4 linked regions of the Homo sapiens genome follow. The protein of the gene in region 3 purifies or fractionates together with the protein of the main gene of each other region. This does not show direct contact. Each region holds a gene or a part of one and is shown on either strand. Other genes may lie near its edges.

Evidence for each region. The genes of interacting proteins can lie anywhere in the genome.
Region 1: the proteins of TBC1D22B (region 3) and CTSH purify together in Homo sapiens (affinity purification with mass spectrometry; 2 studies listed by BioGRID and IntAct, with this or other methods). This does not show direct contact.
Region 2: the proteins of TBC1D22B (region 3) and CASP14 purify together in Homo sapiens (affinity purification with mass spectrometry; 2 studies listed by BioGRID and IntAct, with this or other methods). This does not show direct contact.
Region 4: the proteins of TBC1D22B (region 3) and SULT2B1 purify together in Homo sapiens (affinity purification with mass spectrometry; 2 studies listed by BioGRID and IntAct, with this or other methods). This does not show direct contact.

What each region holds. Positions count from the first base shown.
Region 1 is NC_000015.10:78,927,680-78,932,419, reverse strand, and holds part of CTSH (pro-cathepsin H isoform a preproprotein), read left to right. Parts: coding exon 1-48; intron 49-378; exon of another isoform or gene 379-823; coding exon of another isoform or gene 824-913; coding exon 914-969; intron 970-2,926; coding exon 2,927-3,008; intron 3,009-4,638; coding exon 4,639-4,707; intron 4,708-4,740. UniProt on the Homo sapiens protein: Important for the overall degradation of proteins in lysosomes.
Region 2 is NC_000019.10:15,051,607-15,056,003, reverse strand, and holds part of CASP14 (caspase-14 precursor), read right to left. Parts: intron 3,799-4,397; 5' UTR 3,753-3,798; coding exon 3,726-3,752; intron 2,523-3,725; coding exon 2,373-2,522; intron 2,272-2,372; coding exon 2,046-2,271; intron 847-2,045; coding exon 730-846; intron 649-729; coding exon of another isoform or gene 575-648; coding exon 471-574; intron 20-470; coding exon 1-19. UniProt on the Homo sapiens protein: Non-apoptotic caspase involved in epidermal differentiation. Is the predominant caspase in epidermal stratum corneum. Seems to play a role in keratinocyte differentiation and is required for cornification.
Region 3 is NC_000006.12:37,263,490-37,268,705, reverse strand, and holds part of TBC1D22B (TBC1 domain family member 22B), read right to left. Parts: intron 1-5,216. UniProt on the Homo sapiens protein: May act as a GTPase-activating protein for Rab family protein(s).
Region 4 is NC_000019.10:48,557,799-48,562,538, forward strand, and holds part of SULT2B1 (sulfotransferase 2B1), read left to right. Parts: intron 1-4,740. UniProt on the Homo sapiens protein: Sulfotransferase that utilizes 3'-phospho-5'-adenylyl sulfate (PAPS) as sulfonate donor to catalyze the sulfate conjugation. Responsible for the sulfation of cholesterol.

The sequences.
Region 1 (4,740 bases), on a different chromosome or scaffold from region 3:
GCCCTGGAGTCTGCGATCGCCATCGCAACCGGAAAGATGCTGTCCTTGGTAAGAAATCAGCCACAGGCGACCCCCTGCGGAGGACACCCCATCCTGATGTGGGCCAGGCCTGGGCCTTTGGTTTCCCTGGAGCATTGGCTAAGGGTGCTGTTTCAGGTGGACCCAGATGCCCCAGCCTTGTGGACATCTGGCATGAGAATCTCAATTGATGCTTTTCCCGGGAAGGATCTGAGTTTATTAAGGAACCGGCCCAAGGGCTCATTCCTAGATGGATCTGGGTGGTCCTTAGCTTGACAGCCTGGAGCCTTCCCGGCGGAGGGGTTCAGAAAGGCGGAGCCTGCCTGGTGGGTAGCCAACTAGGAGCTACACCCTTCCCAGCAGCCTCAGTTGTCTTCATGAGGGAAGAGCCGGGACCTATGCATCCATCCCCTCGCCCACAAGAGACGGATGATGCCCCTGAAGGAACTATCCTAGCCCCTGCCTCTGTGGAGAAAGGAGGGACAGTGCACAGCCGGCCTGGTGATGCCATGAGGACCCTGGGTTGTGGACAGGTGGGGGTAGGGTCTCTGGCTGGGCCTGTTTCCCCCATCCTATACACCGCTGTGGGACCCCACACTCTGCATCGTATGGGCACACCTACGGGGCAGGGGTTTGGACCCAACAGCCCTTGCCCCCTCTCACCTTCCCTGGCTGCCCCTGCTTACTGAGCCCCTCCCGACATGTGCCAGCTGCTGGGCTGGCACTGCAGGACATACAGCAACTGTCCCTGCCCTTGGGGAGTTTATAATTTGGTCACCTTGACACAGCACTGACGGGGCCTCAGATGTGGCTCAGCCAGGGAGGCTTAGCGCCTCACGCCAAAGCCTTGACGGCTTCTCAGCTGGCAGGTCACTGGGTTGTGTCCTTCTTCCAGGCGGAACAGCAGCTGGTGGACTGCGCCCAGGACTTCAATAATCACGGCTGCCAAGGGTACGTCTCTGACCAGAAGGGGCCCAAAACTTCCTCATTTCCCACTGACCGCTTCGACAGGATCCAGTGTGTGCTGGGTCTGCCACAGATATAACCCACCACTGCCCTGGGCGATGGCAAAATGGTCTCTGTTGTACAGGGGTGGTCACCTCACATGGCCAGGTCTCATAGCCAGGACAGGGCAGAGCTGGAATCTGAGTCCAGGCCTCTGTCCTCTCTCCACTGTATCACCTGGCTCTCCACAGTGCGGTTGGCCTCACCCGCCACCAAGGCCTCTGGGAGTGTGGCCAAAAGAATTTAATAGAGTGAGCAACACACCATTACACATCATCCTCCAAACCCGAGATCCACACACAGATACAGGGTTGGCCTTTAGATGAACTCACTAAAGTCCCAGCCTCCCAAGCTCATTGCGCCCTGTGAGGGTGAGGTGGCTGTGTGTAAGGGCTGTACCTTGCCTGGACCTGCTTTCCTGGCCCACTGTAAAGCAGGTTGCCAGGAATTTGCTGACATTTCTACAGTGACTCTAGCCCTCCCTTCATGCAGTGCTCTGAGACATTTCTGTGGTCTTTGCTCACCTGGCACATGGTGTGCATAAAGCCAGGCTCTTGGGGTGCCGTGCCTCGACTCCCCTCCACCTCCCTGGGGCACATCCCTCTCCCAGACCCCAGCCCCTCTGAGCTGGCTCTTCCTCCTGCAGGGAGCCGTGCTGCAGCCAAGTCCTGGGGACCCAGGGGTGACGTCGTAGCCTGCTCTCAGATCCACCATCATGCTCAGTGTCCCCTTACTTTTGGTCTGTTTCCACTCCACAGCTTAGAAACCCAACCCATAACAAGAGTCTGACATTTGGGCACTCTGGGGTCCCACCGTTTTTATTTTTTATTTATTTATTTATTTATTTATTTATTTATTTTTTCTTTTTTTGAGATGGAGTCTCGCTCTGTTGCCCAGGCTGGAGTGCAGTGGCGCGATCTCAGCTCACTGCAAGCTCCGCCTCCCGGGTTCACCCCATTCTCCTGCCTCAGCCTCCCAGGGAGCTGGGATTACAGGCGTGCGCCACCACACCTGGCTAATTTTTGTATTTTTAGTAGAGATGGGGGTTTCACCATGTTGGCCAGGCTAGTCTCGAACCCCTGACCTCAGGTGATCCACCCACCTTGGCCTCCCAAAGTGCTGGGATTACAGGTGTGAGCCACCACATCCAGCCTGTTTTTCAAAGGAGTCTATTTGCTTTGGTTCAGGACAGTACTTCCTTTTCTCATTCATACAACAAATATCACAGAGCACCCGCTGTGTGTAGGCCCTGGGGATACAGCGCTCAGCAGAACTGGAAGAGCGGGCATTCTGGCAGGCTCAGAGAGACCACAGTCAAGGCTAGACTAGGTCAGGCGGTGCGGAATGCTATGGAGAGAAACAGAGAAGGGACGGGGATTGCTGGGCAGCTGCTGAGTTTTTGTTTATTCTGGGAGGCCACATGATGTAGAAAAGACCCACTTTTGGAACCACTTCCCAGCTTTAGCTGTGTGGCCCTGGCCAGGTTATTCAGCCTCTTTGCCTCAGCCAGTGACAGCATCCACCACACAGGGTCGACACGAGGGGTCAGGGAGTCATGCCTGGGAAGCACCTGCCCAGGGGCTCGGCTGTGGCGATGACAGTGCTCTGGGCTGATGCTGTTGACCATGGTGTGGGGCTGTGCACTCCTGACAGAGCGGCTGGCCTTAAGGGGTCTCTATCCCACTGAGGCATGTTTGGGCTGGTCCTTGGACTCCGGTGGCCTCATCTGAGTTTGCTGAGTCTTATCCCAAGGCTGGGCCTCTCAGAGACCCCCTCTGCCACTGGGACATGCCCAACCAAGTCCCCAGCCTGCCAGGCCAGATATCTCGCCACGCCAGTCCCCGAGGGCCCCGCCTCTATCAGGACAGCCCCAGGTGGGCTCACCTGTGTGTACTTCTTGCAGGGGTCTCCCCAGCCAGGCTTTCGAGTATATCCTGTACAACAAGGGGATCATGGGTGAAGACACCTACCCCTACCAGGGCAAGGTAACTCCAACAGCCTCCACTCTGTCTTCTTGGCGTACAGCATGCCTAGCTTCACTCCCTCCCCAGCCTTGGAAGACATCCCTTCTCCCCCCACCTCCCTCCCGCCGGAATTCTCACAATTGTCTGTTCTCTCCAAATTCTTCCTTCCCCTCCTCCACCCACCTGAGCCCACTGCTCTCACCAGTCCAGGGGCCTCTTTATCATTCTCACCCCATACCCGCTCTGCGGCACCATCTCTTTCCTTCCCGAGCCAGACTTCTCAGGACCCCTCCTTCCCCCCACCTGCCCCATCTTCCTGGCTCCTCTCCCTCCTGCCACGAGCGCCATCCTCTCGCCTCTGTCCATGCAGTTGGCCTCTTGTGCCAAGGACCCTTTGGGGGCCCACCCCCACCCCTACCCTATCAAGGCTGCTGGGCCTCCCACCATCACCTCCGCCCAGCCTGGCCACAGCCAAGTGCCTTGTCTTTCCCCAAGACCTGTTGCTCCTCCTTTATTTCCCCTCGTGGTGATGAGCAGCACTGGCCTCCCTCAGAATTTCCCAGGTGTCCACAGTCCTGTTGGGCCGGTCCCCCTCTCCACCCCACCCTGCCGCCAGCCTGCTGACCACCACAGACCTCACATGACTCCCTTGGCCCATCTGTGTCGCTGACCACTCAGACCGGGGCCTCCATCCAGACCCCTGAGGGTGGCCTCCCCCAGGCCTCTCAAACCCAGCTCAGACCCCACGCCTGCCTCGATCAGAATGCCGCCGAGGCTCCATGCGGCCTTCGGGAGAAAGCCCAGACTCCAACTCAGTCTCCCTGTCTCTTTTACTCTCCCTTCTTTTTTTTTTTTTTTTTTTTTTTTTGAGACGGAGTCTTGCTCTGTTGCCCAGGCTGGAGTGCAATGGCGCAATCTCGGCTCACTGCAACCTCCGCCTCCCGAGTTCAAGCAGTTATCTGCCTCAGCCTCCTGAGTAGCTGGGAGTACAGGCACCCGCCACCACGCCCAGCTAACTTTTTATATTTTTAGTAGAGACAGGGTTTCACCATCTTGGCCAGACTGGTATTGAACTCCTGGCCTCGTGATCTACCGCCTCGGCCTCCCAAAGTGCTGTGATTACAGGCGTGAGCCACCGTGCCCGGCCAACTCTCCCTTCTTAACCTCACGCCCAGGCCCAGCCACATGCTGGTTCCTAAATGCCAGGTCCTACCCTCCCTCTAGTTCTGTCCCTTGTCCTGCTGCCTTCTCTCCTGCCTTGAAAGGGCTGCGCTTCCCTCCTTGTGACCTTACCCCTGCACCTGCCTCTTGCCAGCATTGTTTTTTGGGCTGAGACTGTCCCCACTCCCCTGCCTCACAGGCTCTGACTCGGCCTCCACTTCTCAGTGAGTTTCCTCAGGCCGGGTGAGGCCCCTCCTCAGGCTCCCACCACACACCATGTGTGCCCACCTCTGCCAAAGCCAGCACAGGACCATCTGCTACCAGACCCTAAGCTCCTTGAGGACAAGGATGCTTTAATTCTCTCTGAAATTATCCCATCCCCCAGGCCCTGGCACATCTTGTTTTGTTTAGTAAATGTTATTGAACTGCGTGGGGAGGCTGAGACTTCGGGTCCATAACCTGTATTTCATGCCCTTTGCATCCTCAACAGGATGGTTATTGCAAGTTCCAACCTGGAAAGGCCATCGGCTTTGTCAAGGATGTAGCCAACATCACAATCGTGAGTGCCGATCCCCCTCTGGGATGGGGAATG
Region 2 (4,397 bases), on a different chromosome or scaffold from region 3:
CTGCCATCCGCCGGGTCACCTGCAGCAACAGGTGTGGTGAGCTTGGAGGAGTCAGTGTCATGGACTTATGGGGGGAGGGTTAGGGAACGGGGCAGGTGGGTATTCTTGTCCTAAGATGAGAGACCGTTGTGGCCTCTTCCTATACCATAGTTTGTATGGAATCCTTGGCTGGGCATTTTTTAAATAATTTGCAATAAAAACATATAAACATTAAAAGAAAACAGTTTGCCCAAACATTGTTTATATCCAAGGGGGATTTGTTTATAGAAATTTATCTCCCATACTGTGGCTTTTAAGAGTCCCTGCATTTGGGAAAGTTGTTGGAAAGTGGGCTTCTTAGTTTCTGTATTGAGATCTGGCTTGGATTTGGAGCTGAGGGAAATGGAGAGGGGTTAGGAGGAGGCTCAGCCCCCTCCGCCTGCACCCTTCTTGGCCTGGGCGGTGGTCCCAGCTACCTTTTGTCAACTCACCTCTGTCAGAAGTTCCAAGATATGTCCTTTCCTCTTCGTGAACACATCCACCAGGGTCTGGATAAAGCATGAGCCTTTCTGATCATGTCGGTAGGCGATGTATCCTGGGAATTCCAGAGAGGTGGGTTCGGGGGAGCTTCAGAGGGTAGGTAGAGGGGATCCTGGAAGGGCGTGGGTCCTGGAGGAGAGGTTCAGGAGTTGGGAGTGGCAGGAGAGGGGGAAGAGCAGAGGGATCCCTGGGCCAGCTGGGAGCTCATACCCTCTACCGTGGAATAAACGTGCAAGGCATCTGTGTATGTTGGGATGGTTTGTGGGCTGTCTTTGATGACCATCACAATCTCATCTCCACCTACTGTTTCACCGGGGTCCCTTTGTTCTGAAACAACAAGAAGAGGAGGAGGCAAAGTCAGAGAGAAAGGTAAGGAAAGGGGCTGGGCAGGGTGGCTCACACCTGTATTCCCAGTGTTTTGGGGGGCTGAAGCAGGAGGATCACTTGAACCTGGGAGCTTGAGGCTGCAGTGAGCCATGATTGCACCACTACACTCTAGCCTGGGAGACAGAGCGAGATGTCGCCTCTTAAAAAGAAAGGTAAGGGCTGGGCACGGTGGCTCACACCTGTAATCCCAGCACTTTGGGAGGCTGAGGAAGGCAGATCACCTGAGGTCAGGAGTTTGAGACCAGCCTGACCAACATGGTCAAATCCCATCTCTACTAAAAATACAAAAATTAGCCAGGCATGGTGGCTTGCACCTGTAATCCCAGCTACTTGGGAGGCTGAGGCAGAAGAATTGCTTGAACCTGGGAGGTGGGGGTTGCAGTGAGCCAAGATTGTGCCATCGCACTCCAGCCTGGGTGACAGAGCAAGACTCCGTCTAAAAAAAAAAAAAAAAAAAGGATGCTTTTGTGGTATGCCATGTGCAGTGGGGCTTTTTAATTTAATTTAACTTTTTAGAGACAGGGGCTTGCTTTGTTGCCCAGGCTGGAGTGCAATGGTGTAATCATAGCTCACTGCAGCCTCTTAACTCCTGGGCTCAAGTGATCCTCCTACTTCAGCCTCCTGAGTAGCTAGGACCACAGGCCCATGCCACCATGCCCTTGGCTAATCTTTAATATTTTTCATAGAGCTGGGTTCTTGTTACATTGCTCGACGCTAGTCTTGAACTCCTGGCCTCAAAAAATCTTCCCGCCTGGGCCTCCCAAAGTACTGGAATTACAGGCATGAGCCATGGTGCCTGGCTTCAGCTGGGGCTTTGGATCTGGGACTGGCTTGGATAAAAACACAGACTTGGTTGGGCATGGTGGGAGGCTGAGGCAGGAGGATTGCTTGAGCTCAGGAGTTTGAGACCAGCCTGGGCAACATAATCAGACCCTGTCTACAAAAATTAGCCTGACATAGTGGCGGGAGCCTGTAGTCTCAGCTACTCAGGAGGCTGAGGCAGGAGGACGGCTGGAGCCTGGGAGATGGAGATTGCAGTGAGTTGAGATTCCGCCACTGCATTCCAGCCTGGGTGCTGTCTCAAAAAACAAAACAGAAACAACAAACCACAGACTCTGTGCTCTTGGATCTGTCCCCACCTCCTCGACAGGCCTGTATGATGTACACCTTGGGCTTAGCTCGCAGGGCCTGGCAGTTCTTGTTGTTCAGGGCCTCGAAGAGATTCTCCAGCTTGACCATCTCCCCATCTTCTCCCTTGAGGAAGCCTTCCCTCCCGTGAGCCATGAGTACCACGAAGGCACAACTGACGGGATCTTCCCGGGAATCGATGGCCTGCTGGAATTTTTCCAGCTCTTCCTGGAATTGCTGGAGTGAGAGGAAGAACCAGACTCAGCTGGGTCCCCATAGCCTACACTTCCAACCTAGTACCTTTCCCCCAAACAGGCCTGGAGTAGGCACCCCAATACCTCGGCAGTGGGGTCTCTTTTCATGGTGCTTTCGAATCTCAGCTGCCGAAACATGTGTTCCAGAGCATCCAGGTCTTCTTCGGAACCTTCCCGGGCTTTGGTGACACACAGTATTAGGGCCAGGCGGGCACCTGACATATCATATTTCTCCTGGGGCCAAGAGAAGACAGAAATCAGCATGGAGAGGTTCAAGGAGAAGCAGATGTAGTCAAAAGAGGCATGCAGGCTGGGTGTGGTGGCTCATGCCTGTGATCCCAGCACTTTGGGAGGCCGAGGTGGGAGGATTGCTTGAGCCCAAGAGTTCGAGACCAGCCTGGGCAACATAGTGAGACTCTGTCTCTACAAAAAATGAAAAATATAGCTGGGTGTGCTGCTGTGCATCTGTGGTCCCAGCTACTTTGGAGGCTGAAGTGGGAGGATAGCTTGAGCCTGGGAAGTTGAGGCTGCAGTGAACTATGATCTTGTCACTGCACTCCAGCCTGGGCAATAAGTGAGACCCTGTCTCAAAAATGAACAAACAAAACAAGAGAGGCTTGGGCTTAGGGTTGCCAGGTATAATAGAAGATGCTCAGGTACACTTAAATTTCAAATAAAAACCAAATACCTTTTTAGTATAAGTATATCCCAAATATTGCATGGGATATACTTATACTACATAATTATTTGTTGTTGATGTGAAATTCAAATTGAATTGGGTGTCCTTTATTTTTAGTTCCCAAATACAGCAACCCAACCTGGGGTCCAGCTCTTTTCTAGCTTGGTATGAACTTGGGGGAAGTCACTGCTCCCATCTGAGCCTCAGTTTCCAAATATAGACAATGAGTGTGTGTGTGATTTTGAAGATCCCTTCCAGTTGTCGTATTTTGTGGATTTGCAGGTCTCCTCATCCTCCCCAAGAGTGTTCTGAGCATTCCTCTATTACCTCCTCACTTGCAGAGGTCTCAGAGTTTCTGAAGCTAATACTGAGATCCCGTCTGAGGAAGAAGAATATTGGGGGTCAACAGTTCTTTCCAGAACAGAAGCAGCGTACTGAGCACCCCAGTGGTAAGAACTTCATCTTTTAAAAAATCAACATGAAATTGTTTATTGCAGGACTTCTCAGAACCTTTAATGTGTTGAGAAGAACTTGATCTTTGGAGACAGAGGTAGCTGTGTTTGACTGCCCCCACCACCCAACCCAACTTCGGTTCCATCTCTGAGTCTTTTTTTGCTGTTTGATTGACTACAAAGTACCTCCTAGCTCTGAGTTCAGATCATGATTTTTTCAGTCCCTCCACTCTTTCCAAAACATTAAAATCCTCACCTTCCTTCTCCCCAGATGATCACCCTCCCCTCAACCTGCACCCAGCCTACCTCTTCCAAAGACCGCGGATTGCTCATTTCTCCTTTGGTTGTGAGTCCCGGCTCTCAGCACCCTTGTCTGATCCTTGGAGTCAAGAGAAGATAGGTTAAAGTTCTCTAAAGGGAGGCCGAGGGGCTCAGGGGACAAACTGGCTTATGTATCTGGATTTTTGAGACCAAATAGCACTCAAGTGGTGGGGATTTGGTCTGTGGACAGATCTGGGCAATAGATGATAATCCATGAAGTAGTAATATATCACCCCTAGAATGACAATTTCACGATGTCTTCCATTTCTGGATGTCTTCTTCAGAACTGCTGAGCCTACCCCACAATGTCCCCCACTCCGCCCCCAAAAACTTCCTGTGTCTCCCGTGGGTCATTCACCAGCTTCTGGTGGACTGAACTTCCCCTGAAAGCCCTGGAATGAGGAGCAGGGCAAGTGACCCATGTGTTTGCCTCTTCTACCTAGGAGATGACGGGCTGGGGAAGCCATCTCAAAGAGATGCCTTGGAGGAGTGTTTAAAAGGAGAATGTCATCGAAGTGGGGAATGCAACTTTGATATTATCTCACTGGGTCTCCAATACGAAGGGGTCAATCCACCTCCCTTGCTCTTCCTTGAGTCTGAATGTCTGTCCACATTCTCCATTCTCATCTCTGAGTCCTGTTCTCTTCTCTGGCTGCA
Region 3 (5,216 bases):
AAGAAAGGAGTAAATGACATAAAAGGATATAGTTCTCTCTGGAGGAAAGAAAGGAGAAAACAGCAAATAGACACAGAAGTTTCTGGGGTGTTCACTTTGTGATTATTCATTAAGCCATCATACCACACATTTGTGCTTCATGTGCTTTTCGGTCATGTATCACAATTAAAAGAAAATGAGCTGATGGGATGGCTCACAACTGTAATCCTAGCACTTTGGGAGGCCACGGCAAAATGACTGCTTGAGCCTAGGAGTTCGAAACCAGCCTGGGCAACAAAGTGAGACTCTGTTTCTACAAGAAAATAAAAAATTAGTTGGGCATGGTGCTGCACGTCTGTAGCCTCAGCTACTTGGGAGGCTGAGACGGGGGGATCGCTTGACCCCAGGAGGGTCCAGGCTGCAGTGAGCACACCACTGCACTCCAGCCTGGACCCTGTTGGAAAGAAAAGGGAAAGAGAAGGGAGAGAAGAAAGAAAATGAGAATAAATGATTCAAGAATAAGTATATATCAAGCCAAACTATTGTTTAAGTATAAAAGTGAAAAAAAACTACTTTTCAACATGTAAGAACTCAGGGAAAATGTGTTCCTTAACACCTGTCTGAAGAAGCTGTGAGAGAACAAACTTCAACTAATCATGAGATGGAGAAACCATGGCAAAAGGATTGGTGGAGAGCCCTGAACAGATCCAACCTTATGACTAGGTCTTACATTTGAGGCAAAGAGAACATCAAAGTAATATAATTGGCAAATGTTAAAAGGAGGAAAAAATGGACAAATGAAGTGCATTGACTTCTTCATCTTTTACTGACAGGGCTCAGAAGATATTTAAAGCAGATAGCTCAATTTGCAAATCTATGTCACTACCTGTTTAACATTAAATCCTAATGTAGATTTGCAAATGTTAATAGACGAATATGGATGTTTTACGACAGAAAATAAAACCAAGAAAAATAATATAATCAACTAGAAGCAGGTGGGAAGAGAGGGGTGAGGAAATATACTTACTAATTTCATCATTACTCATGGTAGGGAGCCAACAGGTACTGTCTGAAGAAATATGGTATAAAGTTACACTTATAAACACAATCACTAAAATAAAAAGATAAATCTTCCAAATTATCAGAATATATATATGTGTGTGTGTATATATATATGTGTATATATATATTATATATATAGTGTATATATATATTATATATATAGTGTATATATATTATATATAGTGTATATATATTATATATATGTGTATATATATATTATATATGTGTGTATATATATTATATGTGTATATATATATTATATATGTGTGTATATATATATTATATATGTGTGTATATATATTATATATGTGTGTATATATATATTATATATGTGTGTGTGTATATATATATATATATGTATGTCCTCCCCTCAAAAGCAAGCACAGTCCACATAGTGAAAGACTTTTTTAAGAAGAAAATATTTTTAAAAGGGCAAGCATGGTAGCTCACATCTGTAATCCCAGGACTTTGGGATGCTGAGGTGTGAGAACTGCTTGAGGCTAGAAGTTTGACCAGCCTGAGCAACGTAGCAAGACCTTGTACCTACAAAAAATTTAAAAATTAGCCAACTGTGGTGGTGCATGCTTGTACTTCTAGCTACTTGGGAGGCTGAGGTGAGAGGATTACTTGAACCCAGGAGTTTGAGACTACAGTGACCTATCATCGTGTCACTGCACTATAGCCTGGGCAACAGAGTAAGTCCTTATCTCAAAAAAAAAAAAAAAAAAAAAAAAGACGAAGAAAATATTAAAAATTGAACTTAAACTAAATAACTAAATATATCAGTTATTCCAATAAATATAAAGGAGCTAACTTACCTATTAAAATAGAAAGGATAATTACCAACAGGAAAGTAGTTAAATAAATTACAGTATATCTTTTAAAAAGAATGAGGCAGTTCTGGCCAGGTGCGGTGGCTCACGCCTGTAATCCCAGCACTTGGGGAGGCCAAAGCAGGCAGATCACCTAAGCTCAGGAGTTCAAGACCAGCCTGGCCAACATGGTGAAACCCCATCTCTACTAAAAAATACAAAAATTAGCCGGGCATGGTGGCAGGCACCTGTAATCCCAACTACTCAGGAGGCTGAGGCGGGAGAATGGCTTGAGCTGGGGAGGCGGAGGTTGCAGTGGGCCGAGATTGTACCACTGCACTCCAGCTTGGGGGACAGAGCAAGACTCCGTCTCAAAAAAAAAAAAAGAATGAGGCAGTTCTATATTCACTGACATGAAATAAACTCAGACATTAATTGAAAAAAGATGCAGAACTACATGTATGACACCATTTTTATAAAAATCTTTAAAATAGATACATGCATTTTATGTATGATTAGGTCTATGTATCTGAAAGAATATCAGAGTATCTGAAAGAATACAAAAGACACTGGTAGCAGCAGTTTGGAATAGGAACCAGATGACTGGAAGATGATGGGACACCAAAGAGACTTAGTTTTCACTGCAAACCCTTTCTGATTTAGTATCATGTACAAGTATCACCTTTATAAGAAATAAGCGATCTTGAGAAGGTTAGAAGGTTTAAGTGGGACGATATGTTGAAAGCCCTTTAGCACAATTCCTGGTGGGTGGTAATGCTAATTTAATGTTAAGCAGGAAGTGACGTAGATTTGCAAATGTTAGAACACTACCCAGCAAACACTCAGTGCCCAAGAAATGTTGATTTTCTTCCTCCCTCCCATTTTTATAATTTAATCCATACTCAACATTTAGAAATTGAAACAAGCTTACCAAATACTTGTTTCACATAACAGAGGTGATCCTAAAGGATGCTCTTAAATAAAAATATAGCCAAATCAATCACTTTCACATTGATTCCTATTAAGATTTCAGAGGAAATCTTACATATAATCTTTAATTTATGAATACAGTCCCTACTTCTTTAGCTATAAGAATCTTTACTCCCTAAACCTCTCTGGAAGATTAATAAGTAATGTGTAAGCAAACTATTACATATATTACTACAGAAATACAAACTTTGAAAACAATACTAATTGATGTGTTTAAAGGGTTTCCTAGGCAGAGAGAAAAAAAGAGGAATCAAAGAGTAAAGGGAAAGTTCTGCTGAGAGAGGAAGGGGGTGTTAGACACCCCCACTGACCACGGGAAAAAAAAAAAAACCCAAAGGGCTACTGATATGCACATTAGCAGCTGCAAATAATCTAAGAGTACACCTGAATTCTTCAAGCCCACAAGCCCTCCTCACAATAAAATATAAAATCAGAGGATAAACTGCAGGAAGATCTCAACAGGCCGGTTAGGTAAGGTGACTGGGTAGAAAAATAAGAGAGTATTACCTTAAAGAAGTATTACCATCTGCCAGTAACCCATGCAGAAGAAAAGCAAACCTAATTTGTGCAGGCTGAAGGGCCAGAGGCCATCAATTACCATCTAGGAAAGGAATCTTAAAATCACAGTAGACTATTTTTTAAAGCTGTCAGCCCAAGGTGCTGGCATAGCCAGGAAGGCTAAGATAAATGATGGACTTCATCAGCAAAGGTATCAGGGCCCAAATTGAATTTGTTAACATATTCTTGAACTGAACCATGATGTATCTAAAACTGGAACACTTTGTATAATAAATCAGCTTATTGCAGCTTAAAAAAGACAGGCAAGAATTTAGAAAAGAGAAACCGAGATGATCACAGAGACTAAATGGAGATAGACCAGAAGAGCCCAATGATTAAGGTGCTCAATTTCCTGACATTTATAATTCACCTTTCACTGTCTGTACCATACCTACTCCTTCCAAACCCAAACTCAGCTCTAAGAAAGACTGATCTCCACTCCACCTTCCAAACTTATTAAACCCATTATTAAATAAGGCTCTTTTCCCTACTTGGAATGCTTTTCTATTTTCTACATCCCTTTTCAAAATTGTATCCATCCTGCAACATTCTCTTCAAATTCTACACCCCTCATGAAACTTTCCATACCCCTACCCCCAGCATCTACTAACTCATGTCTTCTCTAGTTCCCTAACATACATAAATTAGGGCTTATATTACTTTTTAAAAATAAACTAGATTTAGATCATAATATAAGACACAATCAGGGCTGGGCACTGTAATCCCTGCACTTTGAGAGGCCGAGGCAGGCAGATCACTTGAGTCCAGCAGTTCGAGACTGGCCTGGCCAACACAGCAAAACCCCATCTCTACTAAAAATAAAAATTAGCTGGGCTTGGTGGCACACATCTGTAATCCCAGCTACTCAGGACGCTGAGGCACAAGAATTGCTTGAGTCTGGGAGGCAGAGGTTGCGGTGAGCCGAGATCGTGCCATTGCACTCCAGCCAGGGCAACAAGAGTGAAACCCCGTGTCAAAAACAAAACAAAACCAAACAAAACAAAACACCCTGGCATACCCCTCCCTCCCTTCCTAGCAAGCCACTCTATTGGATCTGGCATTTTTCACACTCATTTTTATATTTTTATTTTCTATGTATGTATCCCTAAATAATGTATGATTTTGCATGTTTTTTAAACTTTATATAAATAACATCACACTGTAAATATGACTTATTTTGACTCTAAATCATGTTACTTTAAATTTTACTTAATTCCATGGCTAACTGGCTGATCTCTCCAACACAAGTTAAAAAAAAAAAATACAAAACATTTGCTCTAACACAAGTGAAAAAGCATTTAATTGACATTTTCAAACACAAAGAAAAGTACAGAAAATGATATAATAAACATCCACAAACCCATCACTCTGATTTACAAATGTTAACATTTGTCACATTTCATTTAAGAAAAAAAGTGTTAGGCCGGTCATAGTGGCTCACGCCTGTAATCCCAGCACTTTGGGAGGCCAAGGTGGGTGGGTCATGAGGTCAGGAGATCAAGACTATCCTGGCCAAAATGGTGAAACCCCATCTCTACTGAAAATACAAGAAAATTAGCTGGGTGTGGTGGCACGCATCTGTAGTCCCAGCTACTCGGGAGGCCAAGGCAGGAGAATCGCTTGAACCCGGGAGGCGGAAGTTGCAGTGAGCGGAGATCGGGCCACTGCACTCCAGCCTGGCAACAGAGTAAGACTCCATGTCAAAAAAACAAAACAAAACAAAACAAAAACAAAGTGTTAGACTACTGATGCCCTAATTGCAGTCCCTAGTCCTGTTTCTTCACTTCCCAAGAGATAACAATTATTCTGAAATTG
Region 4 (4,740 bases), on a different chromosome or scaffold from region 3:
ATCCCAGCTACTCGGGAGGTTGAGGCAGGAGAATCGCTTGAACCCAGGAGGCGGAGGTTGCGGTGAGTCGAGATCGTGTCATTACACTCCAGCCTGGGCAACAAGAGTGAAACTCTGTCTCAAAAAATAATTAAAATTAAAAAAATTAAAAAAAATAAAATCGTAAGAGGAAAACATTTGGCACAGGCGGTAGGCAGGATGGGCTGCTGACCCAGTAGGCTGACAAGCCCAGGATGTTATAATCCCTGTAACATCCTTGCAGTTGTTCTCAACCTGTTGAGTGCTGTCTGTATTACCTCATCTAATCCTTACAGCCGTCGGAGATTAACCCATTTTAACTACTATCATCCCCTGTAAGAGGTGAGGCCCAGAGAGGTTGAGTGACTTGCCCAGGGTCACACAGCTGCCAAGCAGGGCGTAGCCAGGATTTGAACCAGGGAAGCCTGACTGTATCACGCCCTGGATGGGGAACTTGGGGATGAGCAAGACCCGGAAGGAGCGAGATCCGGGAGGGAGACTCAGCCCAGACAGGAGGCGTTAGCAGGCGCTCTGCGGTTCCAGGCGTTTCCTTGCATTCCCTGCGTGCTGGGCTACGGAGAGTGTCAAGGCCAGAGAAGCCACGCCGGCCTTTGGACCTGGGGCGCCTCGGGCAGCCAAGGAGAGCTGCGGTGGCCGCTCCTCCCCGCGCTCTGATCTCGGGAGTCCCTGGCGCCGGCACCTTCTGATCTCTGCCTCTTATTGACGGGGAGGGCGAGGAGGGGCCAGCTCTGGTTTTACAACCCCGGCCCCACCTTCCTTAGGGAGGGCTGAGCCACATGAATGATTTTATGGCCAAAGCCCTGCCAGTCATGAGGCTGCTTTTTCTTTTTTCTTTTCTTTTCTTTTTTTTTTTTTTTTTTTTTTGAGACAGAGTTTCACTCTGGTTGCCCAGGCTGGAGTGCAGTGGCACCATCTCGGCTGACTGCAACAGCCGCCTCCGGGGTTCAAGCGATTCTCCTGCCTCAGCCTCCTGAGTAGCTGGGACTACAGGCGTGCGCCACCACGCCTGGCTAAATTTTTGTATTTTTAGTTGAGACAGGGTTTCACCATATAGGTCAGGCTTGTCTCAAACTCCTGACCTCGGATGATCCACCCGCCTCGTCCTCCCAAAGTGCTGGGATTACAGGTGTGAGCCACCGCGACTGGCCTGAAGCTGCTTTTTCTGAGACGGGCTGATCAAGGGGTTTCAAACAATTAAGAAATAATAAGGCATTGCCTCCCCGCTGGGTGAGATTTGGGCAGGCAGACTAGGGAGAGGGGCTTCGGGGCCAGCACTAGCGGATGCGGGGACTTGGGGAGAAGTGGAAAAAGATGCTCACGGTTCCCTCCTTCTCCACCCAGCCCCTGACGAGGGACTCAGCCTTGAAGAGTGAGGGACAGGATGCGTTTTCCTTTCCACTCGCTCTTTGGGGTGGGGGGAGGCAGTTGTGCCTGGTGGGCCTGTGTACGGACTGGCAGAGGAAAGGTTGGAAGTGGTGATGTTCAGAGTTCAGGACCCATTTGGTTTTGTTTTTTGTTTTGTTTTGTTTTGTTTTGTTTTGTTTTGTTTTGGAGACAGAGTCTTGCTCTGTCGCCCAGGCTGGAGAGCAGTGGCGTGATTTTAGCTCACTGCAACCTCCGCCTCCTGGGTTCAAGCGATTCTCCTGCCTCAGCTTCCCAAGTAGCTGGGATTACAGGCATGTGCCACCATGCCTAGCTAATTTTTGTATTTTTGATAAAGACAGGGTTTCGCCATGCTGGCCAGCTGAGTTCAGGACCCATTTGGAAAGAACTAAGCAGCCCAGTTTGCCACCCAGAGGGTCTGGAGGAGGAACTGTGGGACCCAGTGGGTCACCCATGACATGGAATAAATGCCAGGCTGAGAAGGGAGACCCTCGCCTTGCCCGGAGGCCTGGAGTGGAGGCCCTAAGAGAGGTGTGGCCAGTTACTTACGTGGGGACCAGAGCCCCAAGGATCTGGGAAAGTGGGGACCGTGACACCGCAGGCAAGAAAGCCTGCAGGGGCCAGGTGCCACAGCTCACGCCTGTAATCCCAACACTTTGGGAGGGCAAGGCAGGAGGATTGCTTGAGGCCAGGAGTTCAAGACCAGCCTGGGCAACATAGCAAACCCTCATCTCTCTTTAAAAAAAAAAAAAAAAAATTAAAAAGAAAAGAAGAATGCCCACAGGAAGGCAGTCCTGGGTTCGAATGCCGCCCCTATGGCTCAGGAGCTGGGACCCTCCTGGTAGAAAGGACTGCCCTCAGGGTTGAGCGTCTGTGAAACGGGCAATGACCGGGGAAGGGCCTGACCTGGGCTCGCAGCTGACTCAGCATTTGTGCTGTTTCTCTCTTTCCTCCTTCCCCAGTTCTGAGACCGCTGCTGAGCCAGAAACTCGAATGCTAGCAAGGGAGGGGATGGGTGAGGAATGATAATAATGATGAGCTTCCTGAGCATCTGCCCTGAGCCAGGCCCTGTGCTGAAGGCTGTGTGGGGATGAGCTCACTGAGTCTTCACAACAGCCCTGTGTGGTCCCAGTGTTACAATGCCCATTTTACAGATGGGAAAACTGAGGCCCCACTCATAACCCTCATGCCAGAGAAAGGAATCCAACAGGGGCTTGGAACTGCAGTCAGAGGCTGCCCCTCAGTGGCCATTTCTTCTCGGGGGGACTTGTCACCCTTATGGTTTCCATGACCCTGGCCACCCTCCATAGATATATACCGTGAGCCCATAGGAAAACATTTTCTCGTAGCCACCTTTTTAAAAAAACAAAAGAAACAAGTGAAATTAATTTTAATCACATATCTAATCTATCTGAAATATCATTTCCACATATAGTCAATTTCAAAAACTGTCAATGAGGCTGGGCGTGGTGGCTCATGCCTATAATCCCAGCACTTTGGGAAGCCGAGACGTGTGGATCCCTTGAGGTCAGGAGTTCGAGACCAGCCTGGCCAACATGGTGAAACCCCATCTCTAGTAAATATACAGAAATTAGGACAGCCGTGGTGGCTCACATCTGTAATCCCAGCACTTTGGGAGGCCGAGGTGGGCCTATCATTTGAACCCGGGAGGCAGAGGCTGCAGTGAGCTAAGATCCTGCCATTGCACTCCAGCCTGGGCAACAAGAGCAAAACTCCGTCTCAAAAATAAAAAAAATAAAAATTAGCCAGGTGTGGTGGTGGGCGCCCGTAATCCCAGCTACTCGGGAGGCTGAGGCAGGAGGATTGTTTGAACCCAGGAGACGGAGGTTGCTGTGGGGCTGAGATCGCACCACTGCACTCCAGCCTGGGAGACAGAGCAAGATCTTGTCTCAAAAAAATAAATTCGGGCCCGGTGTGGTGGCTCATGCCTGTAATCCCAGCATTTTGGGAGGCCGAGACAGGCGGATCACCTGAGGTGGGGAGTTCCAGACCAGCCTGACCAACATGGAGAAACCCCGTCCTACTAAAAATAGAAGAGTAGCTGGTCGTGGTGGCACATGCCTGTAATCCCAGCTACTCTGCGAGGCTGAGGCAGGAGACTCGCTTGAACCCGGGAGGCAGAGGTTGCAGTGAGCCGAGATCGTGCCATTGCACTCCAGCCTGGGCAACAAGAGTGAAACACTGTCTCAAAATAAATAAATAAATAGATAGATAAAATAAATAAATTAATTAAGATAAAATAAATAAATAATAAAGGTATGCTGGAAGGGAGAGAGAGAGGAGGTGTTTGAGAGAAAGGAGGAGAGAAAAAAAGTGAAGAGCCCCAGGCGACAGGCGTCGTGCAGGGTGCGGTTCCACGGTGTAGTGGAGCATGCGACATTCAGGGAACAAGCCAAACTGGACAGTGAGAACGGAACACTGGCAGCCCAGCTACAGTGGGACTCGGATGGGCAGGGCCTGCGGTGAGACTGTCAGGCTTCAAGGGACAGAGCCAGGGACCTCGAACCTAACGTGTGTTCCCCATCAGGCAGATGTGGGTGAGATGCTCTACATCCCAGAGCCCCACTCCCCTCTTCTCCAAAATGGGCCTTGGCTGGGTGCAGTGGCTCATGCCTGTAATCACAGCACTTTGGGAGGCTGAGGCAGGTGGATCACCTGAGGTCGGGAGTTCAAGACCAGCCTGGTCAACATGGCAAAAACCCCATGTCTACTAAAAACACAATAATTAGCCGGGCTCATTGCTCACGCCTGCAATCCCAGAACTTTGGGAGGCCAAGGCAGGAGGATCACTTGAGATCAGGAGTTTTGAGATCAGCCTGACCAACATGGCGAAACCCTGTCTCTACTAAAAATACAAAAATTAGGTCAGGTGTGGTGGCTTATGCCTGTAATCCCAACACTTTGGGAGGCTGAGGCGGGCGGATCACCTGAGGTTAGGAGTTCAAGGCCAGCCTGGCTAACATGGTAAAACCCCGTTTCTACTAAAAATACAAAAAATTAGCCAGGCGTGGTGGCACATGCCTGTAATCCCAGCTACTCGGGTGGCTGAGGCAGAAGAATCACTTGAACCCTGGAGGTGGAGGTTGCAGTGAGCTGAGATGGCCATTGCACTCCAGCCTGGGCAACAAGAGCGAAACTCTGTCTCAAAAAAAAAAAAAAATTAGCAAAGCGTGGTGGTGTACACCTGTAATCCCAGCTACTGGGGAGGGTGAGGCAGGAGAATTGCTTGAACCCCGGGAGGTAGGGGTTGCAGTGAGCCGAGATCACACCATTGTACTGCAGCCTGGGTGAAGGAGT